Linked DNA regions of Homo sapiens: region 1 is linked to region 2. The links come from fine-mapping of genetic effects on gene expression. A gene starts in region 2. The other region holds a variant in brackets. All regions are shown on one strand. Distances are from middle to middle.

Region 1 (11,538 bases), 100 kb after region 2:
TTTTTTTTAGATGGAATCTTGGTCTGTCGCCCAGGCTGGAGTGCAGTGGCACAATCTTGGCTCACTGCAACCTCCACCTCCCTGGTTGAAGCAATTCCCCTGCCTCAGCCTCCCAAGTAGCTGGGATTATAGGTGCATGCCACCAGGCCCGGCTAATTTTTTTTGTATTTTTAATAGAGACAGGGTTTCACCATATTGGCCAGACTGGTCTTGAACTCCTGACCTCAGGCAATCTGCCTGCCTCAGCCTCCCAAAGTGCTGGGATTACAGGTGTGAGGCACCATGCCCGGCCGAGATATGTTTTTAAAATCTGGATAATAAAGCAAATGGTATAGATGAATGTCTTTAAATTACAGGAAGAAAATGGTATCAGGCAAAACTTTATATTTTCCATGGGCCCTGGAGATGGAAATTCATTTGCTTGGGAGTGGAAAGCATGCTTTGCATGATGTTCATTGATGGAATGTATTTTAAAAATGCAGAACCTAATTGGGGCTCTCAAATTTTCTACCCTTATTAATTCAAATGGAGACTTTCTGCTAAACTCAAAAATGCAAATACTAAGTTATTTCAAATAGGAATCCTGCTAACACTAGTACCTCTTTATTGCATGTAACCACAGATGCTTCCTTTTGAGTCCTTGGTCATCACTAACACCACATAGAATGGTATCAAGCTCATTTTGATGCTGCTGTATCTATTTGGTGTGAATGATAATAGCCATACTGCACATTTGAATCACACTATCACATGTGGTTACATTGAATTCTTACAGCAACTCTGTGTGGTATAAGGTACACATTGTTAAATATATTTGATAGATGATAGAACCAAGTCTCAGAGAGGTGAATTAACTTGACCAAGGCAACAATTAGTTAGTTGGATAAGTTGCATATTTGATCTCAGAAGAATTCTTATTAAAATGAATAGATTCCAATAACATTTTGCTTTGGGGAAGTATCTGCAAAATCTTCCACTGCAGCTATTTAGGCCATGGTCGCTGTATAACCTCGACAGTATTTGCTGTATATATGAACAGAGAAAGACCCACACAGATACATCTTTGATTTATATCAGCTCCACATGATTTGGTATTAAAAAAATTGTCTTCCTAAAAAAATCATATTCCCAATTCATTGAATCAAGAAGTGCCATCACATGTGTGTGTATATGTATGTGTGTGTGTGTTTCAAGTAAGAGGACGAAAGAGGACAGAGGAACAAAAAAAGCCTCTTCTCTTTAAAAATGTTGCTGTACTGCAAGTCAGCCACTGCTGAAACTCTGAGATGGCTTTTGTTTTAAAATCTCCTGGGACTTGCAGATCGTGGAGGTGCGGCATTGCTGTTCATATCCATGATCATGCCTGAAGCACACACGGAAAGGTTGTGAGCAGTCCCTCTTGTAGGGGTGTGTGGCATGTGAAGACTTTGGTGTGCTGTGGATCACTCCTTGGAGAAATGCTCGTTGTTAGCACAGTTAGGTTTTTGCTGGCAGAATGGCAGAAGCCAGCTTTCTAAAATGACTACCTCTCCCGCACCTCCCTGCTATTTTTGCATTGGCATCCTCCTGATGAGGATAGCTCTTGCTGACCATTTACACTTATTTACATTCTATTCCACAGCCCATAAGAGCCAGCTTTCCTAAGCTCCTTCCCTGACATCCCAGACTCATGTAAACATCATCCTCCGGAAGCACTTGTTACCCGTAAAACTCATTCTCTTTTTTTTTTTTTTTCTTTCGAGACAGAGTTTTGCTCTTGTTGCCCAGGCTGAAGTGCAGTGGCATGATCTCAGCTCACTGCAACCTCCGCCTCCCAGGTTCAAGCGATTCTCCTGCCTCAGCCTCCTGAGTAGTTGGGATTATAGCCATGTGCCACCATGCCCGGCTAATTTTGTATTTTTTTTTTTTTTTTTTTTTTTTTTTTTTAGTAGAGATGGGGTTTCACCATGTTGGTCAGGCTGGTCTCGAACTCCTGACCTCAGGTGATCCACCTGTCTTGGCCTCCTAAAGTGCTGGGATTACAGGCATGCGCCACCGTGCCTGGCCGACTCGTTCTTTAACTGATGGACGCTACCCTGCCAGATGGTGGTTTTATTCAGGTACATACACATTTCATCTCCCTGCCTTTAGTGTGAATTTCCAGAGGGCAGGGCCTGAGTCTCAGGCCCCATTCTTGCTGCCCTCTCCTTCCACCACCCCTTGGCACTCAGCCTTTGGCCAGGCCCAGTTTGTTGAGAGGCAAGAGGCAGGAGGCTGTGGTTAAGGCCATGTGCTCTGATCCCGACCTCCTAGGTTTGAATCCTGACTGCTACTTACTGACCGTGACCTTTGGTAGCTCAGCCTCTTAATCTGTAAAATGGAAATCCTAATGGTACCTGCCTCGTAGGGTTGTTGAAAAGATTCGGTGAGATTTGATGTGAAAACTGCTTAGCATGGTGTCTGGTATGCAGTAGGCATGATAAAAGCCATACCTATTGTTATGCTTCAGGAAGAATCTGCTGGAGGTGGGAGGCTGGAGGCCCATGAGGAGGCCTCTGGGGCGGTGACGGTGGAAGAGCCACATCTGCGCTGGCTCAAGAGCCCGCGCACTTTTCTGCACATCCTCCGCCCAGGCCATGAGCATCAGTCCTCGCTGCAGTCTTGTCCCAGCCCAAGAGGTCAGGGGCGTGTGAGTGCTGGGAGGGGAGAGTAGGTACAGAGTGCTGTCACTGGGAGGGAGGATTTGGTGGCTAATTGGATATACGAAAAGTAAATGGGGAGTTAAGGATTCCTTTCAGGTTTCCAGTTTGGACAACTGGGTTGACATGGATGCTGTTAACTGAGAAAGGAACCAAGAGTTGGAACAGGTTTAGAGGGGCTGGTAATGAATTTAGTTACAGACGTCTTGGGTTTGCAGGATCCGGGATGCATCTAGATGGAGCCATCCAGTTGTAATGACAACAGAGAACATATATGGAATATCATGTTCCAGTGTCTGTTCCAAGCCCTTCACAGGTTTGAATCCACTTATTCTCACAACAACCTTATGAAGGAGGTACAATTCTTATTCCCATTTTACAGATGAGAAGACTAGATGCAGGGTGCTTTAGTTACTTGTGTAAGGCCACACTGCTAACAAGAGATGGTGCAGAGATTGGGACCCAGGTAGTCTGGTCCCAGATAGCCCCCACATTTTGCTGCTACTCTACACAGACCCTCCATCTCGTTTCTGGGAGGATAGGTCTGGACATGTAGGTGTGGTGAAGCCTTGGCAGGGAGGACATAGCTCGAAAGCCCCTGAAGAGTGAGGTGGGTGGTGGAGGAAAGAAACTCAATTTGCTGATGCAAATGAGCATCATTGTTGAAAATTCAGGATCAATAAAAGGTATGACTGGGAGGAAAGGTCAAGTCGGAGTATGATATTCTTGTTAATATCTCTAAGTAAAGGCTATAGGATTGATGACACAATGCTTTGATACAATACTTATGTGTCCATTTCAGTCAACAAAGTTTGCTCAGATGGCTTTCAAATTCCTTTGATTAACACTCTTGTGAGGTAAGTAGGTGGGAAGTGTTATTACTGAGGGTACACAGGAAGAAATGAATTTGGGAATAGAATCCTAGCCAGACTCTCCCCGCCAAGAGTTTTATTTAACAAAGCACACACTGATAGAAGGTGTAGATTGCAAAGTACTAGTTATGTCCTGGAGTTGGGTTAGTAATTTTCAATTAACTTTTTGGGTGGCATAGCCTTGGTACCTAAACAAAATGAAATGGCTGCTAATGATTTATTTTTACTCTACAAGCTGCCTTAATTATACCAAGAAGAGGATTAACACATTGGCTCTCGGCTCTGGCTGTGCGTCAGAATCACCCAAGGGGCTTTAAGAAACTGCATTCTTAGGCCCCACCTCTGCAAATTTCCGTTGGGTAAATTGGGTTAGAGGTAAAGGAGTGGACTGGGGCTGTTGTTGTGCATTTTAAAAATAGGTGCTCCTTTGTCAAGATGCTGGAATGACATAAGTATTTATTTCCTTTTCATCCCAGAATCTCACTGAAATGATTCCCCCAAAGGGTATAAGAAGAAAAAAAAAAAACCATAACAGGGCGGGCAGACAGAATAAGGTACCATCAACTGGAAAGAAATTCTGAGGATTGTCCCGAAGGTACCAGCAGATGGGACTGGGGACTGGATTTTAAAAGATAGAGCAAAAAACCCAGAGGGGGCGGACATGAACTGTCCAAGGGGAGCACCGTTCTGGGCTGGAGCTGGGAAGAAGCACCACCTGCGCCATCTAGTGGAGGTCATGAGTAGGCCATGGAGTGAGTGATTGATTGTCTGGATAATTAATTAAAAGACACCCTGTTCCTACTGATTCCTTATGCCAAGCAGCTGACAGCCGCATTTGTTCTCAGGCTAAAGCTGCAAGAACTGTTCTCCAAATAAAATTCAGGCTCAGCCCCGGGGTGTGAGTCCCTACATTGGCACCAAGGTGACAGAGAAGCAGAAGGTACTTTTGCATCTTCGTGAGGGTGAAGCTCACCAAGCTCCAGGGGAAAGCTTTTCACACTTTGGTGGAGAGGTGGGTCACCCTCTTGCTCACTGCTCAGACATCCATTGGGAGACCTGGCTGCCCACCGATGTCCCTATTCTCATAGACTAGGGTAGACAGCCCTCGAACGCAGGGGAGAGGCTCACTGTGAAAATAGATTTTCTGGGGGGTGTGCTGAATACAGCATTCCAATGATGCAGATGTGGGATGACCAGCCTATTATTGGCTGTATGCATTGCTGGTCCTGCTAGATGGACTTAGTGCCCCCGTGGAGGGGAGACAGAATACTGAGAGGAAGGATAATAAGCACCGTGGATTTCTGTACAGGCCTTATCATTTCCACATCTTTCATCTGAGCCTCATAACAATCTTGTGAGGCAAATGGCACTTATGGTTTCATTTTACCAATAAGACAGCTGAGGTTCTGAGAAGTTAAGGAAGTTCAGGGACTTGATCAAGTTCATTCAGGTAACATGTAGCAGAGTAAGGAACCAAAACTGGGTTTTGCTACCTCAGATGATATTCTCTTTCTACTTATCGCATATTTTCCAGTTTACATAATTTACTTAATTTCAACTTTTTTTTTTTTTTTTTTTTTTTTTTTTGGAGATGGAGTTGCCCAGGCTGGATTGCAGTGGCACCATCTCCACTCACCACAACCTACGCCTCCTGAGTTCAAGCGATTCTCTTGTCTGAGCCTCCTGAGTAGCTGGGACTACAGGTGTGCAACACCATGCCCAGCTAATTTTTTTGTATTTTTAGTAGAGACAGGGGTTCACCATGTTGGCCAGGCTGGTCTTGAACTCCTGACCTCAGGCGATCCCCCCACCTTGGCCTCCCAAAGTGCTGGGATTACAGACATGAGCCACCATGCCCAGCCTATTTCAACTTTTTGATAAACATTCATTTCTGGAAGGTAGAGTAGACTTCGGGATCTGTAGATAAATTTGTGCCAGTGTAATAGAGTAATGAGGCTGAAAAACATTGAGAAATATTCTGAAATGATGGCTCCCACGAAAGTGAAAAAGATAGTATCATGTATTAAAAAGGGATTAATTTAGGAATTTGACTGTGGTTGGGTTTAGGACATACTTGTTTCCTGAGGTTGCTGCAACAAAGTACTACAAAGCCGGTGGTGTAAAATAGCACACATTTATTTTCTCACAGTTGTAGGGGTCAGAAGTTGGAAATCAAGGTGTCAGCAGGGTTGCCTTCCTTGGAAGGCTCTGGGGGAGAATTTCGTTCCTTGACCTTCCAGCGTCTGGTGGCCGTTAGCATTCCGTGACTTCTTGGCTCATGGTTACATCACTCCAATCTCAGCATTCATCTTCATGTCACCTTGTCCTCTGTGTCTTCTCCCCTTTGTCCCCTTCGTCTCTTTTTTTTTGAGACAGAGTCTCACTCTGTCTCCCAGGCTGGAGTGCAGTGGCGCGATCTCAGCTCACTGCAAGCTCTGCCTCCTGGGTTCACGCCATTCTCCTGCCTCAGCCTCCTGAGCAGCTGGGACTAGAGGCGCCCGCCACCACGCCTGCCTAATTTTTTGTATTTTTAGTAGAGACGGGGTTTCACCGTGTTGGCCAGGATGGTCTCGATCTCCTGACCTCGTGATCCGCCTGCCTCAGCCTCCCAAAGTGCTGGGATTACAGGCGTGAGCCACTGCGCCTGGCCCCCTTTGTCTCTTATAAGGACACTTGCCATTGGATTTAGGACCCATTCAAGTAATCCAGGATGATCTCATTGCAACATCCTTAACTTAAATTTGCAAAGACCCTTTTTCCAAATGAGGTCACATTTAGAGGTTCCAGGGATTTGAATGCAGATGTATCTTTTGGTGTGGGGTCATCACTCAGCTCACTACAGGGTGTATTTATTTACTTAACATTTTCATAGTGAAATGAAAAAACCCCTTGGCCCTTATACCCTGTGATGTATATTTATACAACCATTGGAACACCTCATCCCTAGGGACTAGGTTTGTGTTATTTTTTTTCTTAAACACCAACAGGTAACAGCTGCCAGTTTGAAAGCAGG[A/C]GCTTCTCTTGAGCCTTTCCTGTGTCTGTCTGTGATGACATTTCTGTGACTCCATCTCTGCCTCCTTTTCTTTAGTTTCCTGGGCAAGACACTAGGATTTTAGAAACTGGTATTCAAAAGGGAGGAAATCAAGTGACAGAAAATAAGAAAAATATTCTGAGGTTTCTGCCTTCTTTAATCATGGAAAGGAATGGCAGGTTTACTCAGCCCAGATTGGAAAGAAAGGTAAAAACCTTGGGACAGGAGGGGATATTGGGCTATTTATTTTTGAGTCACTCACATTCTTCAGTTTGAAAATGGAAAAAACTGAAAGCCAGAAGGATTATGTAAGGTCACTTGGCAAGTTGTGGGCTGACATAGCATTAAGACTAAGAGCTTCTGAGTTCTCTATTCTTTTTTTTTTTTTTTTTTAAGAGACAGGGTCTTGCTCTGTTGCCCAGGCTGGAGTGCAGCAGCGTGATCACAGCTCACTGCAGCCCCGATGAGTTCTCTGTTCTGAGCTTCTGAATCACAGTGACTCTTGAGGGGGTCTCACTCTATTAATCTTTGGTTGTCTAAGCAGTATATGAGGGTCTTGACACTCACAGCCAAATGAGCACACAGGAGAGGTTAAGCCTTGACTTTGCTGTGTTTGATCTTCATTCAATAAATGAGTAAAAGAAATGAATGCTGTGGTTGTATTCAACTTGTTTCCAAGCTAGCCAGTAGTGAGAAGCCTGTAAGCAAATGGATTTTTAAAATTTCATACTAGTATCTATTACGGGCAATACCGTTCTTGAATCCAAGTGAATTGTCTGAAGGATTACCATGTCTGGTGCTGGTGTTTGTAGACTTATATAGGAAAAATAACAACAAACAGAAGCCAGCCTTTCTTCTTCATAAGGACTTGCTCCGACCATTCATCTAAAAGTAGATTTTCTCTTTGCAGACTTTGAACTGCTTTGAACTTGTTTGCAAGGTCAGCCCTCCACTAGTTCAGGAGAATGAAAGCTATTTGGAGAGCTGGAGTAAATATTGAAGTAAACCAGCCCAAAGAGCAGTTTGCCTTGTCTCAGGAGAAGTTGATAGCTTTACCAGGTACTGGTAGGTAGTTTCCCAACATAGGGCCCAACTGCCAGGCAATGTTGGTAGGCTCTGCAGACTTCTAAATGACAGACTTTATTTTATTTTATTTTATTTTTGAGACGGAGTCTCGCTTTGTCACCCAGGCTGGGGTGCAGTGGCGTGATCTTGGCTCACTGCAAGCTCCACCTTCTGGGTTCACGCCACTCTCCTGCCTCAGCCTCCCGAGTAGCTGGGACTACAGGTGCCCGCCACCATGCCAGGCTAATTGTTTTTGCATTTTTAGTAGAGACGGGGTTTCACTGTGTTAGCCAGGATGGTACAGACTTTAATAAAGCATGTCTGTTAAGTGATATTATGCTTTGAATCATTTTGTGTATGAACTTACTTCCTTATTTTTTTGGCTAATGCCTATTAAATCTAATGTATTCTGCTTCTTTTTGTGCTAAGCACATGACTGAAAGGCTGTGAGCCATAAATCTTACACTCAAAAAATTCACATGATGTTTTCTCATTTTACCTTGTAATGACTTTGGCCTTGTGGTTTATTGTTATGGCCTGGGAGTGTTTTTGAGGTACATTTTTATTTTTGTCATATAAAGTACCCAAAACACTCCTGGTGTGTGTCTAAGGGATAGCCTTGGGCGGGGGGAGGGGGCAGTTACTTTGGCATTTATGCTTGCAACCTTTTTGGCACTTATATTTGCCAACTGAGTAGGCCAGTAATAATTTGGAATATGTCTTGTTGAGCATATACTTCTGAGAGATGTAAAAACCAAAGTTTCTGCAAATTTATTTAATTCCTTGTTTGATCAGCATCAAACTGGACCTCAAGTTTAAATTTAATTTCTATTTTCACTTGGGAACAAAAATTATTGCAAGAATTGACAAGGCAGCTAGATATGGTGGCTCACACTTGTGATCTCAGTACTTTGGGAGGCTGAGGCAGAAGGATCACTTGAGGCCAGGAGTTCAAGACCAGCATGGGCAAGACTCTGTCTCTAAAGAAAAAAAGAAAGAAAGAAAAGAAAAATGCATTTGCAAGGCTAATAGAAATCAGGAGGCTAAAAGGAAAACCTGGCCTAAATGATGTATCTCCTAGATGTAGGTGGGGCAGGCAGTCATATTTGCTTAAGGAGCCTATGAGGCAGCCTGTAGAAAAGGGACAGGCGCCTCTAATCCCAGCTCCTTGGGAAGCTGAGGCACGAGAATTGCTTGAACCCAGGAGGTGGAGGTTGCAGTGAGCCAAGATTGTACCACTGCACTCCAGCCTGGGCGACAGAGTGAGACTGTGCCTCAAAAAAAAAAGGGGGGACCCTTTTGGCTGGGAATGGTGGCTCACGCCTGTAATCTCAGCACTTTGGGAGGCCAAGGTGGGCAGATCACTTGAGGCCAGGAGTTTGAGACCAGCCCGGCAACATGCTGAAACCCCGTCTCTACTAAAAATACAAAATGAGCTGGGTGTGGTGGCACACGCCTTTAATCCCAGCTACTTGGGAGGCTGAGGCAGAAGAATCGCTTTGTAAAGCATGATCATGCCACTGCACTCCAGCCTGGGCGACAGAGTGAGACAGTGTCTGAAAAAAAAAGAAAAGGGACCCTTTTTTTCTGGATTCCAGACAGGAAAATTTAATCCTCGGTGGTGTTTTTTTTTAAGAAACAGAGTCTTTCTCTCTTACTTAGGCTGGAGTGTAGTGATTCCAGCATAGCTCACTGCAGCCTCAAACTCCTGGGCTAAAGCAATTCTCCTACCTCAGCCTCCCAAGTAGCTGAGACTACAGGCACACACCACCATACTCAGCTAATTTTTAAATTTTTTGTAGAGATAGGGTCTTGCCATGTTATCCAGGCTGGTCTCAAACTCCTGGGCTCAAGCAATCCTCCTGCCTTGACCTCCCAAAGTGCTGGGATTACAGGCATGAGCCACTGTGCCTGGCCACTTTTTCAACTTTAAAAGTGGTCCCCGGCTGGGCACAGTGGCTCACGCCTGTAATCCCAGCACTTTGGGAGGCCGAGGTGGGCGGATCACAAGGTCAGGAGTTCGAGACCAGCCTGACCAACATGGTGAAACCCCGTCTCTACTGAAAATACAAAAATTAGCCCGGCGTGGTGGCACACACCTGTACTCCCAGCTACTCGGGAGGCTGAGGCAGGAGAATCGCTTGAACCTGGGAGGCAGAGGTTGCAGTGGGCCAAGATTGTGCTACTGCACTCCAGCCTGGGCGATAGAGCAAGACTCCGTCTCAAAAAAAAAAAAAAAAAAAGTGCTCCCCAACCTATGCCTCCGTGTTCAGAGAAGTAGTCTCTGGCACTATCCTGTTTTTCTGGTTCCTTACCTGGCCCCTCTTGTAATTTGTGTGCCTCATCTGGCCTATGAATTCTCACTGCTGTGTGTTTCATCCTTGCTTTGGCACTTTGCCCTGTGTACCTTCTCGTCCAGTTCCACTTTCATTGGCTACCATGAATATCATTTCTCCTGGGCCCCAGGCTCCTATTTCCTGTCCCTGAAAGTAGGTCTGGGCTTCTTGGGTCAAACAAAAATGGTATCTACAAATTACTTTGTCTCAAGGAGTGTTTCTAGATATAGTTAGTGATCAAAAATGTGCTTCCAAACAAGGAGGAAAGCTTGTGGGTAAAAGCCTTGATAGTAAAAAAGATGTTTAAAAAAAAAAAAAACAAAAAACGTGGCTTACTGTCTCTGACTCTGACCTTATTCAAGATGTTTTCTTGTCCCTTCTTCCCACACCTACCAAAAAAGACACCAGAGCTGAGAACCTTGTGAGATCCACTCAATTTCAGTCCTTTTCGTGGGTGTGAGGAAGACAATAATTACCAGATTTGGAAGCTGATGAAGGTGTCATTTTGACAGTCCTGAGAACTTAAATGTTCTGTTTGCATTGCTTGCAGAACTATTTGCAATTTAGGAAGCGGAATATTTCCAAAGCATCTTTAGTGACATGGCTTAACCTTGACTTTGGAGGAGTAAGAGTCAGTCAAAGGATGTGAAATACTCAGCTTACATTGGCTAAGTGCTCATAGCATCAAGTTTCTCTAGGGGTGACTGAATGGGTCCCAGTTGGAATGAGGTGAGAAATGGGACTAAGGATTGCTTCCTGATTGCAATGGTGGCTAGCTTGTAGCTTTCCCAGAAACTTAAATTTGCTCTGCTCCCCCGGGTGCTGGTTTGCATTCACATATCTCAGCAACTGTCATAATGACATGCAACAGCCACGCCATTTACAGAAAAAGCTAGAACTCTGTGTTGGTAAGTAAAAGCCCTCCAGCATAGGTATACACTTAGTTGTTCCTTCCAGTGGTTATCATACTTCTTTTCTTGCCATAGTTACATGCTAACAACGTCCCAAAGCTATAGTTGCTCTTGCATTTTGTTCTTAATTCTTGTAAGATAAACTAATAATACAGGGAGTAAATGTGCACTGTTTATTAATTAAAATCCCCGGGACACGGGATAAACTGAAGGAAATCGTGCTTTTTGAAAAGTAGGTGTAGCTTGCCATGCTGCATTGTCTTATACCCACACATAACTCTGGCTGGCACTTTTTGGGTGCCAGGCTGCATGCATCTCCCTGACCCACTGTAGACTTCAGCTGCAGCTGTGGTGGACAGTGCTTATGCATCCAGCCTGTTTGCCTTCTCTCTTCTGCCTCACGGTTCTCCCTTGAAGGAGTTTACTCCATCCAGGCCTGTCTCCAAATAGAGGAAACTTAATGCCCTCTCCACCAATGGTGAAGGGGGGTCGAGGATTAAGTACTCTAGCTCATTGTCCTTCAGGGGGGCCATTCTGGAGAGCATTTTACTCTCGCTTAGAAGTTCTCAGTGGGACTGAGTCCCAGTTACCTCTCTGCAATCGGAAATCAGTTATGTATTCTTCATTGACTTTTCCTCCTTCCTG
Region 2 (11,538 bases):
TACAGGCAAGAGCCACCACGCCCAGCTAATTTTTGTATTTTTAGTAGAGACATGGTTTCGCCATGTTGGCCAGACTGGTCTGCAACTGCTGACCTTAGGTGATCCACCCGCCTCAGCCTCCCAAAGTGCTAGGATTACAGGCATGAGCCACCGTGTCCGGCAAATATTTCTTTTTAAAAAGTTAATTTTTTTTTTTTTTTTTTTTTTTTTTGAGACAGGGTCTCACTCTTTTGCCCAGGCTGGAGTGCAGTGGCACAATCACAGCTCACTGCAGCCTCAACCTCCCGGGCTCTAGTGATCTCTCACCTCAGCCTCCCAATTTGCTGGGACTACAGGCACACACCACCATGCCCTGGTAATTTAGAAAAAAGTTTTTTGTAGGGATAGGTCTCACTATGTTGCCCAGTCTGGCCTTGAATTACTCGGCTTAATTGAGCCTCCTGCCTCAGCCTCCCAAAGTGCTGGGATTACAGGCGTGACCCTTGGCATGGGGCCCTATAAATATTTCTGTATATAACCATCTGTATCTTTTAAGTTACCCTCGAGTTCATGCAGATTCTCTGACTCCAGTCCATTACCACATGGATCATTTTAGTCTCCTCCCCTTGCTTCTATGTAACCTTCCACTCCAACAGTGGGAAACCTGGCCCCCATCATTTGCCATCTATGTAATGAATTGTTCAGTTCCAGTGTATACATATAGTGATTTCAGAATAGTTAACCCACACTCCTCAGAAACAATGTATCAACCGTAGTACAATGCTTATGCACAGTTCCTTTTAGTCTTACAGGCGCCACTCATTTCCAGGGTTACTTAGGCCAGCAGCCATTTTCTCCACATTCTTCAGTGACATTGTTTAATATATTTGTAATACAGTTATATTCTTTTGTCACATTCTGCATTCCATCCTGATCTCTCAACATCTTCAATGATTTTCTTTTTAATTCACCCACATTAAGGCTTACTTTATGCTGTGAAGTTCTATAGTTTTGACAGATCCATGTTAGGTATCCATCATTACAGTATCATACAGAACAGTTTCATCACCCTTAAAAACCCCCCATGCTCCACCTATTCAACCTGCCGTCTTCATCACCCCCTCCAGAACCACTGATCTGTTTATTGTCTTTATAGCTTTGCCTTTTCTAGAATCCCAAATAGTATATAGACTCAGACTGGCTTTTTTCATTTACCAATATGCATTTAAGGTTTATCCCTTTTTTTTATGACTTGATAGCTGAATAGTATTTTATCATTTTATCATATGATTAGACCATGCTTTGTTTATTCATTTACCCATTAATGGACACCTTGGTTGCTTCCAGTGTTGGGTTATTGTGAATAAACTTATTAAACATTTGCATGGTCTTTGTGTGGATGCAAATTTTCAGATCAGTTGCATAAATACTTAGGTTCTCGATTGCTGGATTGTATAAGATGGTTTAGCTTGTTAAGAAACTGCTAAGAAACTGCTCAGGTATGTTCCTAAGTGGCTGTACCATTTAGCATTACCATCAGCAATGAATGAGAGTTCTTATTGCTCCTTATCCTTACTAGCCATTGCTATTATCATTTTTATGTTTAGTCATCCTTATAGGTGTATAGTGGCATTGCATTGTTGTTTTAATCTGCATTTCCCCTAAAGTAAATGATGTTGAACATCTTGTCATGTGCCTATTTGCTATCTATGTGTCTTCTTTGGTAAAGTATCCATTAAAATATTTTGTTCATTTAAATACATTTTTTTTTTCAAATTTTAGAGATGGGTCTCCTGTGTCTCAGGCTGGAGTAGAGTAGTGAGATGATGGCTCCCAGCAGCCTCAAACTCCTGGGCTCAAGGGATCCTCCCACCTCAGCCTCTCAAATAGCTAGGATTACAGGCGCATGCCACCCACTGCGCATGGCTAATTTTTTTTTTTTTTTGTAGAGATGTAGTCCTGCTTTGTTGCTCAGAATGGTCTTCATCTCCCGGCTTCTTGGGCAATTCTCTCCTCAGCCTCCCAAAGTGCTGGGGTTACAGGCATGAGCCACAACCCCCTGCTACTTTTGTCCATTTTTTATTTGAATTGTTTATTATAGTTGAATTTTTTTTTTTTTTTTTTTTGAGACGGAGTCTCGCTCTGTCACCCAGGCAGCAGTGCAGTGACGTGATCTTGGCTCACTGCAAGCTTTGCCTTCCAGCTTCATGCCATTCTCCTGCCTCAGCCTCCCGAGTAGCTGGGACCACAGGCGCCTGCCACCATGCCCGGCTAATTTTTTGTATTTTCAGTAGAGACAGGGTTTCACCATGTTAGCCAGGATGGTTTCAATCTCCTGACCTTGTGATCCACCCGCCTCGGCCTCCCAAAGTGCTGGGATTACAAGCGTGAGCCACCGAGCCTGGCCTATTATAGTTGAGTTTTAAGAGTTATTTGTATATTTTGTTTACAAGTTCTTTGTCTTCTTATTATCTTAACAGAGTTTTTCACAGAGCAGAAATTTTTAATTTTAATTAAACCCAGAATATCAATTTTTATTTTCTTGCATCATGCTTTTGGTGGTGGTGTAAAATCTCAACACCAAACTCAGACTCATGGAGATTTTGTCTTCTGTTTTCCCCTAGAGGTTTCGTAGTTTTGCATTTACACTTAGGTCTGTAATCCATTTTGAGTTAATTTTTCTGTAAGATCTGAAGATTAAAAAAATAATAACTTTATTGACATATAATTCACATACCATACAATTCACCCACTCAAAGTATACAATTAGGCAGGGTGCAGTGGCTCACACCTGTAATCCCAGCACTTTGGGTGGCCAAGGTGGGAGGATGGCTTGAGTCCAGGAGTTCAAGACCAGCCTGGACAACACAAGGAGACTACAATTCTATAAAAAATAAAAAATTAGCTAGGCATGGTAGTGCCCACCTGTGGTCTCAGCTACTCAGAAGACTGAGGTATTGCTTGAGCCGGAGATGGAGTCTCACTGTGGTGCCCAGGCTGGAGTACAGTGACGTGTCACAGCTCACTGCAGCCTCGACCTCCTGGGCTTAAGCAATCCTCCCACCTCAGCTTCTTGGTTAGCTGGGACCACAGACACGCACCACCATGCCTGTCTAACATTTTTTTCTTTTCCTACTCATGCTTTTGGTGTCATGTCTAAGAATTTATTGCCAAATCTAAGGTCATGAAGATTTACCCTTATCTTCTAATAGTTTTATATTTTTAACTCTTTTAAGTCTTTGATTAATTTTGAGTTAATTTTTGTATATGATATAAGGCAGCAATCCCCAGCCTTTTTGGCACTAGGGATTGGTTTCATGGAAGATCAATTTTCTATGGGACGGGGATGGAGGATGGTTTGGGGATGATTCAAGCACATTACATTTATTGTGCACTTTATTTCTATTATTATTACATACTCACCATAATGTAGAATCAGTGGGAGACTTGAGCTTGTTTTCCTGTAACTAGATGGTCTCATCTGGGGGTGAGGGGAGATAGTGACAGATAATCAGGCATTAGATTCTCATAAGAAGCCCACAACCTAGATCCCGTGCATGTGCAGTTCACAATAGAGTTTGCACTCCTATGAGAATGTAATGCCACCCCTGATCTGACAAGAGGCGGAGCTCAGGCCATAATGCTCACTTGCCCCACCGCTCACTCCCTGCTGTGTGGCCCAGTTCCTAACAGGCCACAGACTGGTACTAGTCTGTGGCCTGGGGGTTGGGGATCCTTGATGTAAGGTCAGGGTTCAACATCATTTTTTCCACTCTGGTGTCAGAGGTAGGGACAATGATGCACCTCTCTCTGAGTGACATCACCATGTTAGATGCTGAATGTTTCTGGCAGAAGCACTCAAAGCAGTCCCACGTTTCCTGACTTCTTTCTCGATGAGCCAGAAGCAAAGGTGATCAAGGCCCAAGTACACTCAGTGCTGCTGTGGCCAAGGTACAGCCTCCAGGTACAACTGGGCAGAAGAAGGGAGCCCCCACCTCTGCCATACTTGCTTAGAACTTAGTCTCAACAACAGGTAGCTGCGGGGAGGATGACAAATGCTGATGTTTTGTCCCTCCTAGGAAGCTGACCCTCCAACTGGGAGCTGAAGGGTGAGGGAGCCCTGTGTTCTTGGCTGCACCAGTATAGCGTGGAGCCCTCTCTGAGTTGGAAGCATGAAAAGAGTGAGTAGGTCTTGGTTCAAATACCTCAAGCTCACTTTTCTTACTGGGTTTCAGTAGGTTTTCTTGAATAAATGTTCCTTCATTTGTTGTGCACCTTTAGGACCATTTTTAGAAATTTAAATGGTTGCTTATATATAAAACATATAATTTTCACCAGTTTTGCTTTGAGCTGGGTGTACAGGGCTTCTCATGTTGTTATGCCTCTGTGGGTTCTGTTTCAATAACTTAAAGTCAGTGAGAATGTGGACAGTGGAAAACCACACAATTCAAAGTCCAGTGCTCACATAGTAATTTAATATGCACACACGTATCAACTATGAAAATGGCTCAGAACTAAATACGGATTGGGTTGACAGTAACTAAAGTAGGGAGTCCTGCATGGTTAGACCTCCATTCCCCATAAATTCATGGAGTATCTACTATATGGAAGGTATAGGAATAGAAGATAAACCGCTAAAAATTCTGAAAATTAGGAGATTTTCACAAAAACAGAACTAACAAACTAATAAGCTAAGGCAGCCTATTCTAAGTGCCCAGAGAATACATGCTCCAGTTTTTCAGAAGCACAAGAATTATGTGGGACTGGAGTAGTCAGATAGGATTTCTGTGGAGGAAGCGTGAGCTGAGTCCCATTTAGAAGAAAGGTAGGATTCAGCCGGGTGTGTAGGTTGTTGGGAGGGCATATTCCAAGGAGGCATTCCAAAGCAGAAGAGCTCAAATGTGATTGTATTTGGAATACTTGGGTATTGATGACTAGACCTGCCTGCTTGCTGGAAGGTTTGTATAGAGAGATCAAGATGGAGAAATGAGATGGAGAGTGATCAGAAATGCAGGAGAGGCTGAGTTGTTGGACCATGGAGTTTGGACTTTATCTTAGAGAAGAGTGACTTGGGCAAGATATTTTAGGAAAATGGTTTTGCCTGTAGTGTGTAGATGGAATGAAATCTCTGCGTGTGTATGTGTGCATGTGCATACGTGCACATGCACCAGGAAGCCTGGAGGCAAGGACATTAGTTATAAGATTGTTACAGAGGTTTGGATTAAGTGAAGGGATTAGGAATGGAAAGGAAGTGTCTGGTGGATGGTAAGATATAACCAGGACCTCAATAAAGCCAAGCAATTATTAAAACAAGCATGGTAGTTGTGTCCATAAACATAAAGTCCTAGAATGCAAGCTGATTTAGCGATTTGAGATAGTAAGTATATTTTAATTTAAACGGAGTCTCTTTATTTTTGAATTTGCATATACTTTTCTTCCCTCTTCTTATTCCTCTGTCAATACCTCGCACTTATTCTTCCTTTCCGCAATCCCTCTCTTTTAATTTGATCACAAATTAATCTCTTGTATGTATTTACAGGAGGAAACCAATGGCAAACGTTGTGTATGGTTGCAAGGATGAGTTTCTCCCCCTTGAAAATATCCATTCGCATAGAAATGGGAGGCACAGTGACCAACTCTTGCTTCTTAGCAGGTCTAACATGACCTTCAAAACTCCGTAGGACATACTGGTCTTTGGCGGGGCAGCATCTCCCGTCAGACTCAGGCTGGCTGGGTTTCTCACAGCTGCCTGGATGTGTGTGACTCGCAGCTCTAAGGACAGAATTGCCAAAGCAATACAAAAACACGGACGAAAAGCAAGCCACAAAACCCCATGCCTTACACATTAGGCTGATGAGTGAAGTCGCGGAAGGTGGCTCTGCTCTTGCCCTTTTAAAATTCCAGTGCAGCAAACACACACACACACACCCGCTCGGTTCTTCCCATTCCCGCCACACTGCACCAGCTTCCGTCCCCAAGTCCTGATTCATGAACCGTGCCACCTTTGTCTCATTTTAAACTGTGCAGACTATTTTAATCTTGCCACCCCCATCCCAGATTTCCCCCTCCCTTCATCCTCTGGAAGCTCTGATGTAAAGCGCTTGCTAGGTGGGAGAGCGCTTCTCCCAATCCGCTCGGGTAGGCGAGTTTCCGAGAAGCCCCCTCCCCGGGACCCCGCCGCGAGCGCGGGGGAAGCGCCTCGGTCCCTTTAAGGTGCCGCGCTCTCCGAAGTGCGGGCAGGGAGCCTGGGCGCCGGCGCGGGTCCTGGAGCCGGGTGGGGAAGTCCTGCGCCCTCCCCCTCCGTCCGCAGCCCAGCCTCGGGGGCCAGCCCCCTCCGCCCACCGCACACGGGCTGGCCATGCGGCGGCTCTGAACGATGTCCTCCTCCTCCTACGCCAAGAACGGGACCGCGGACGGGCCGCACTCCCCCACCTCGCAGGTACCGCCCCCTCCTCCCCCTTCTCCTCTTCCTCCTCTTCCTTCCTCACACCTCCTCCGCCGCCCTAGCGCGCCCCGCCTTCGTGCCGGGCGTGCGGGGCCCCAGTCCCGGGAGTCGGCGGCCCCGCTCCCCCCACCCCTCCTCCACGTCCCTTTCTCCTCCCGCTCCTCCTCTTTCTCCTCCTTCTCTTCCTCCTCCTCCTCACCCTCCTTCGGGTCTCTGCGCTCCCGCTCCGGAGCCCGCAGCCTCCCCCAGCGGATGCCGGGGACTCGGACCCCGCACCCTGAGAGTCTTTGTTAATGGATGTGGTGGGTGCTTGCGGGCTGCTCTTCTCGAGCATCTTTTCAGCAGTCGAGGCTTGCAGTGGGTGGGTGGGGGTGGGGGCTGTATTTGGGAGTCGCGGAGGAGACTTGGGTGCGGGCTCTAGGGGACCCCAGGGAGCGGGTCCGGAGGCGGACTCCAGCCGGGGGTGGTCGCCCCGCTCTGCGCTGCGGTCCTCACCGGCTTCTCTCTGGCCCCCGTGTGTCGAGTCCAGGTGGCCCGAGGCACCACAACCCGGAGGAGCAGGTTGAAAAGATCCGATGGCAGCACCACTTCGACCAGCTTCATCCTCAGACAGGTATGAGAAGGAGGCGGGAGACCAGGATGGGGAGGAGGCCGAGCGCGCGGCGCGGGGGTCCTGGAGCCGGCCGTGGCCCACACGTGCGGGAGCTGCGGGTCAAGCCCGCGCGCGTCTCTTCCCGGCCTCGGCCGGTGCTCGGGCTCAGTCCCTCTCCCTCTAGCCTGGGCTCTTGACGTCTTCGCGTCCCGGCGTCTCCGCACCGCCCCGGGAAGTTAGTTTGTGCATGTGTGTGGACAGTTCGGTGGGGACCTGGCTTAAGTCAGGGACGTTGAATTTAAGAGCTGGAAATATGTCTGGTTGTATCTTTGGTGCGTGGAGAAATGTCTTTAATTCGTATAACTCGACCTAGAGTAACCAGACCCCTCGGGGCCGGGGACCTGGTTTGATTCGAGTTGAGATTTAGTGGTTTCTTCTGTTTTGTCCTAATTTGAATACTCTTATCTGTCTGGATCTTGGGAGAGATCGTCAAGCTCCGGTCAAAAGAAAGACACTGAGCAGAAAGTTTACTCTCACTTTAGGACCGCTTCTTGGATTCGCTTAGTTAGGGAAAGACAGCTGTATCTGGTTAAATAGGAATTAACGAAGGCCAGCACTCAGCTCCGGGTCTGGGTGCGCCTTCACTTCGTGTTTGTTTTCTTAGTGCTTGCTTTCTCCTGCGTGGTTCTAGTGCGAATTGTCTGTGCTCGGGATCTCCGGATCGCTGGTAATGCTCAATGCTTAGGTGCCTTTCACCTTGGCACAGGAAATTGGTCCTCAGTTTTCCAACTGTCCATGTGCTGTTAATGAAACCACCCCTGGCTGCTGGGTGCTAGAGAGATCATGCAATGAGTCACCTTGATCTTTCTTTGGAACAGAAATTGTCGGGGTGTGTCCTAGGTTTCGGGTGACCTAGGAAGACATTGGTCATCGCACCAAGAGGCTTTTATCCCAGGTCTTCCTGTGGGCTGCTGGAGTGACCTTGAGAAGTTCTTTTCCCTCTAGGTCACTCAGTATTGTGTAATGTGTTTTCTAACCTATGATGGCAGCTCTGGTGTTTCTTTAGTGATTATCATCAATTTAAACATATCAACGAGGAATTGATATCAAAATTGAACTCAGACCTCTCCTAAAAGGGTCTATAAAGCATATTTAGATGATATTTATTATGCAGAATTTCACTTTCTGCAGAAGCGGAAATTTTGACTACCATTTAATTCAGCGAGCACTAAGCATGTACATTATGGAAATAAATGCATTTTGGATTCCGAATTCATTCTAAAAGTGCATTCTATCCCCTTTGCAGTATTTAGATTATGTATTTGATAAGGCAAACATATTGTTTATCTTAAAAACATTTTTCTGTTATGCAACTGTTTGAGGTCTTGCTGGTGTTTATTTTGTAGGTGCCTATTTTTAGTGGTGTTTCATTGTTGCAAATTCTTGGAAATACTAATTACACAGCAGTTCTTTCCATAAGCTGTTTGACTAAAACTTTTGAGTTCATCTACATAACTGCACTAATGCTTTATTCTTCCTTCCAAGCACAAACAAAATAATATTCTAATATTCTTACTCTTTTCTCAATTTATGCCCGTAACTGATTGAGATGATGTATATATAAGTTCTTGTAAAGCGTGCTGCTATGTGCTGGCTTAAGAAATGTTAAAAGTATTGCATGCTAAATAATTTTGGGAATAATTTAAAGCAAAGTAGATTTTTTTAAATAAATATATTTCATCTATGAAATGGGAATTCATTGGTTTGATTAAATGGTCTAATTTAAATTCAGGAGTTAATTGTAATTGTATTATATACACAATCTTATTTTTCGGCACAAAAATAGTACTTAATTTTTTTCTTTTTTCAGACGGAGTCTTGCTCTGTCGCCCAGGCTGGGGTGCAGTGACGCAGTCTCTGCTTACTGCAAGCTCTGCCTCCTGGGTTCACGCCATTCTCCTGCCTCAGCCTCCCGAGTAGCTGAGACTACAGGCACCCGCCATCACGCCTGGCTAACTTTTTTGTATTTTTAGTGGAGACAGGGTTTCACCGTGTTAGCCAGGATGGTCTTTATCTCCTGACCTCGTGATCTGCCCACCTCATCCTCCCAAAGTGCTGGGATTACAGGCGTGAGCCACCATGCCCGGGCTACTTAATTTTTATGAGCACTTTACAACTCACTGAGTATACTACACATGATCTCATTCAAATGACATCATACAGACTTCTGTATTGGCTACAATAAAAATAACTGAGGGATTTACATTTCTTTGATGAGATAAGGAAAATGATTACAAATGCAGTTTAACAATAACTTTCGGATAAAATTGAAATCACCCCAATGCCAAAAAATATTTTTTATGAAAGCATAACAGCTGCTTACGTTAACAGAGCCTTGGGCTGGTCACAGTGGCTCACGCCTGTAATCCCAGCACTTTGGGAGGCTGAGGTGGGCGGATCACTTGAGGTCAGGAGTTTCAAACCAGCCTGGTAGCATGGTGAAACCCCGACTGTACTAAAAATACAAAGAAATTTGCCAAGCGTGGTGGTGTGTGCTTGTAATCCCAGCTACTCGGGAGGCTGAGGCAGGAGAATTTTTTGAACCTAGGCGGTGGAGGTTGCAGTGAGCCAGTATTGCTCCACAGCATTCCAGCCGGGCGACAGAGCAGGACTCCATCAAACAAACAAACAAACAAAAACAGAGTCTCATTATTTGTAGAATGACCAGTGATTTATTGATATTTGAATTCTTGATACATTGGAGTGATGAAATTTCTTGGTGCTGTTTCACAGTCTTTGTGATGCCTTTGAAGAAGATAGTGGAATACCAAAAAATATATATATTGCTAGTTTCTTTATCATATTATTTACAAAAATATGGAGAAAAGCTTTCATTAAAAAAAAAATCGATGTGTTACATTGGATGGGGAAGACTGGGCTGTTGGTGAAGCAGAGAAGGCAGTTGGCAACTCACCCAATAAGACAATATTTGTTCTTTGAGCTTGTTAAAAAGTTTCAGTGTTTCTGAGACTATATATGCACATATGTGTGCATGCACACACATGAACATTTGAATTGGCTGGAAAACAAGCAGACTGAGAAAGAGAGCCTGCTTCCACTCTGAGGACTGCTCATGAAGCCCCTCAGGAATCTTTGACCTTGTTTCTGGTCTACAAGATTTCTGGCTTCCACCATTTAGGAGGGATGGAGGTTTTGGAATGAATCCAGGGAGCAAATAAATGGCTTCTTTGAGGAAAGGTGAGAAGATGAAGTACTTTGCCGCTGAAAGGAAAGAAAGCTAGGAGTGACCCAGAAATGATCTTCAAAGTACACACAAAGGCTTTCTTTGGAAATGTGATGAAGTGTTCTCACTCTTCATTGGGGATGAAACTCAAGAACTGGCCCAAATTAGAAAGGAATGATGTTTTACAGCAAGACCTTCCTAAGAGTGTTGCCATCATTGGAGTGGCTTTCCAAATGAGGCCATAGAATTTTCTTTCAGGAGAGCCCTTCTTACAGGCTATTTATGAATGGATTATCTAGTCATATTTTAAAGTTTTAGGAAACACTTAAGTATTTGCTATGTGCCTAGCACTATGTTAGATATTGTAGGGGAGGAATGAAAAGATGGATGAGACACAGCCCCTGTACTCAAAGATTTTTATAATCTAGCAATGGAGACAGAGATGTCTACAAACAGTACGGTGACATGTAACAAGGAACGAGAGGGCGGGCTCAATGACCATGTACCCCGAGTATCTATTATATATCCATAAGTATATCTACCCATGGGTGTCACTACACATACAGTTTATACGGCTGAGTACTCCAAGTTAGTCCTCTTCCCACTGGGGTTTGAAGAGAAAATCTGATCAGAGTGGGAATAGTTTGTTGACTTTTCCTTGTTAAGTCTGCTCTTATGAGGCCAGCAAAGTCATACCTGGCCTGGCCCCTGCCTGCTTCCAGCCTCATCTTGAGCCATGATCTCTTAGCTCTGGACACAGAGTTTGAACACACTGTCTTCCCTCTTGCCACTGGTCCTTTGCATATGCTGAGCCCTCTGTGTGGCAGGTTGTTGTCCTTCCTTCTGCCTAGTTAACTTTTAATCTTCCCTGAGATCTGGGGGTTTAGTCTTCACTTCCTCTTCTAACCTTCCTGATAAAGTCAGTTCCCCAACAAGGGGCTCCCAGAGGGCCTTGTGCCAGTTTTCAGTAGCACCACCGCTTTTATTTAACATGTACTTAGATTTCTCTGTTACATTCTGTCTCCCCATCCGTATGAGTTCCACAAGGACAGGGACATGTCTGCATTTGATCTTTGTGTCCTCAGCATCTAGCATAGTATATGTTCAATAAACACACACTTGAATGAATGAAGCAGTGGATGGATGGAGAACTAACTTGATATATTTTAGGCATGAGGTTCTGCTCCAACATTAAATGCTTTGTTTAGTGGGGAGAAATTGCCTCCTAACCTCCCCCAAAACTCTGTGGCTTGAAACAACAACAATTTTTTATTTCTG

Alleles and levels. Alleles are on the strand shown, and positions count from the first base shown. SD is a standard deviation of normalised expression in the study named.
For the expression in sun-exposed skin of the gene that starts at base 6,323 in region 2, allele C in region 1 goes with a higher level than allele A (small effect, 0.30 SD a copy in GTEx).

The links. PIP is the estimated chance that this variant, and not a neighbour inherited with it, causes the effect. A credible set is the group of variants that fine-mapping cannot tell apart.
Region 1: its variant is the best candidate, but not a certain one, in a credible set for the expression of CACNB4 in sun-exposed skin (GTEx, PIP 0.78).

The regions. Positions count from the first base shown.
Region 1 is chr2:151,991,915-152,003,452 of GRCh38, reverse strand. All of the region lies in intron 2 of CACNB4 (calcium voltage-gated channel auxiliary subunit beta 4), which reads left to right. Among named protein-coding and RNA genes, the nearest start is that of CACNB4, 100 kb to the left of the region's middle. RefSeq lists enhancers at 2,076-2,576, 4,266-4,345. The variant A/C (reference allele first, on the strand shown) is at 6,564.
Region 2 is chr2:152,093,829-152,105,366 of GRCh38, reverse strand. It overlaps CACNB4 (calcium voltage-gated channel auxiliary subunit beta 4), which reads left to right and starts at 6,323. Exons shown (of 14, transcript NM_000726.5): 1 at 6,323-6,418; 2 at 6,954-7,037. The coding sequence starts at 6,356. RefSeq lists a silencer at 6,125-6,414.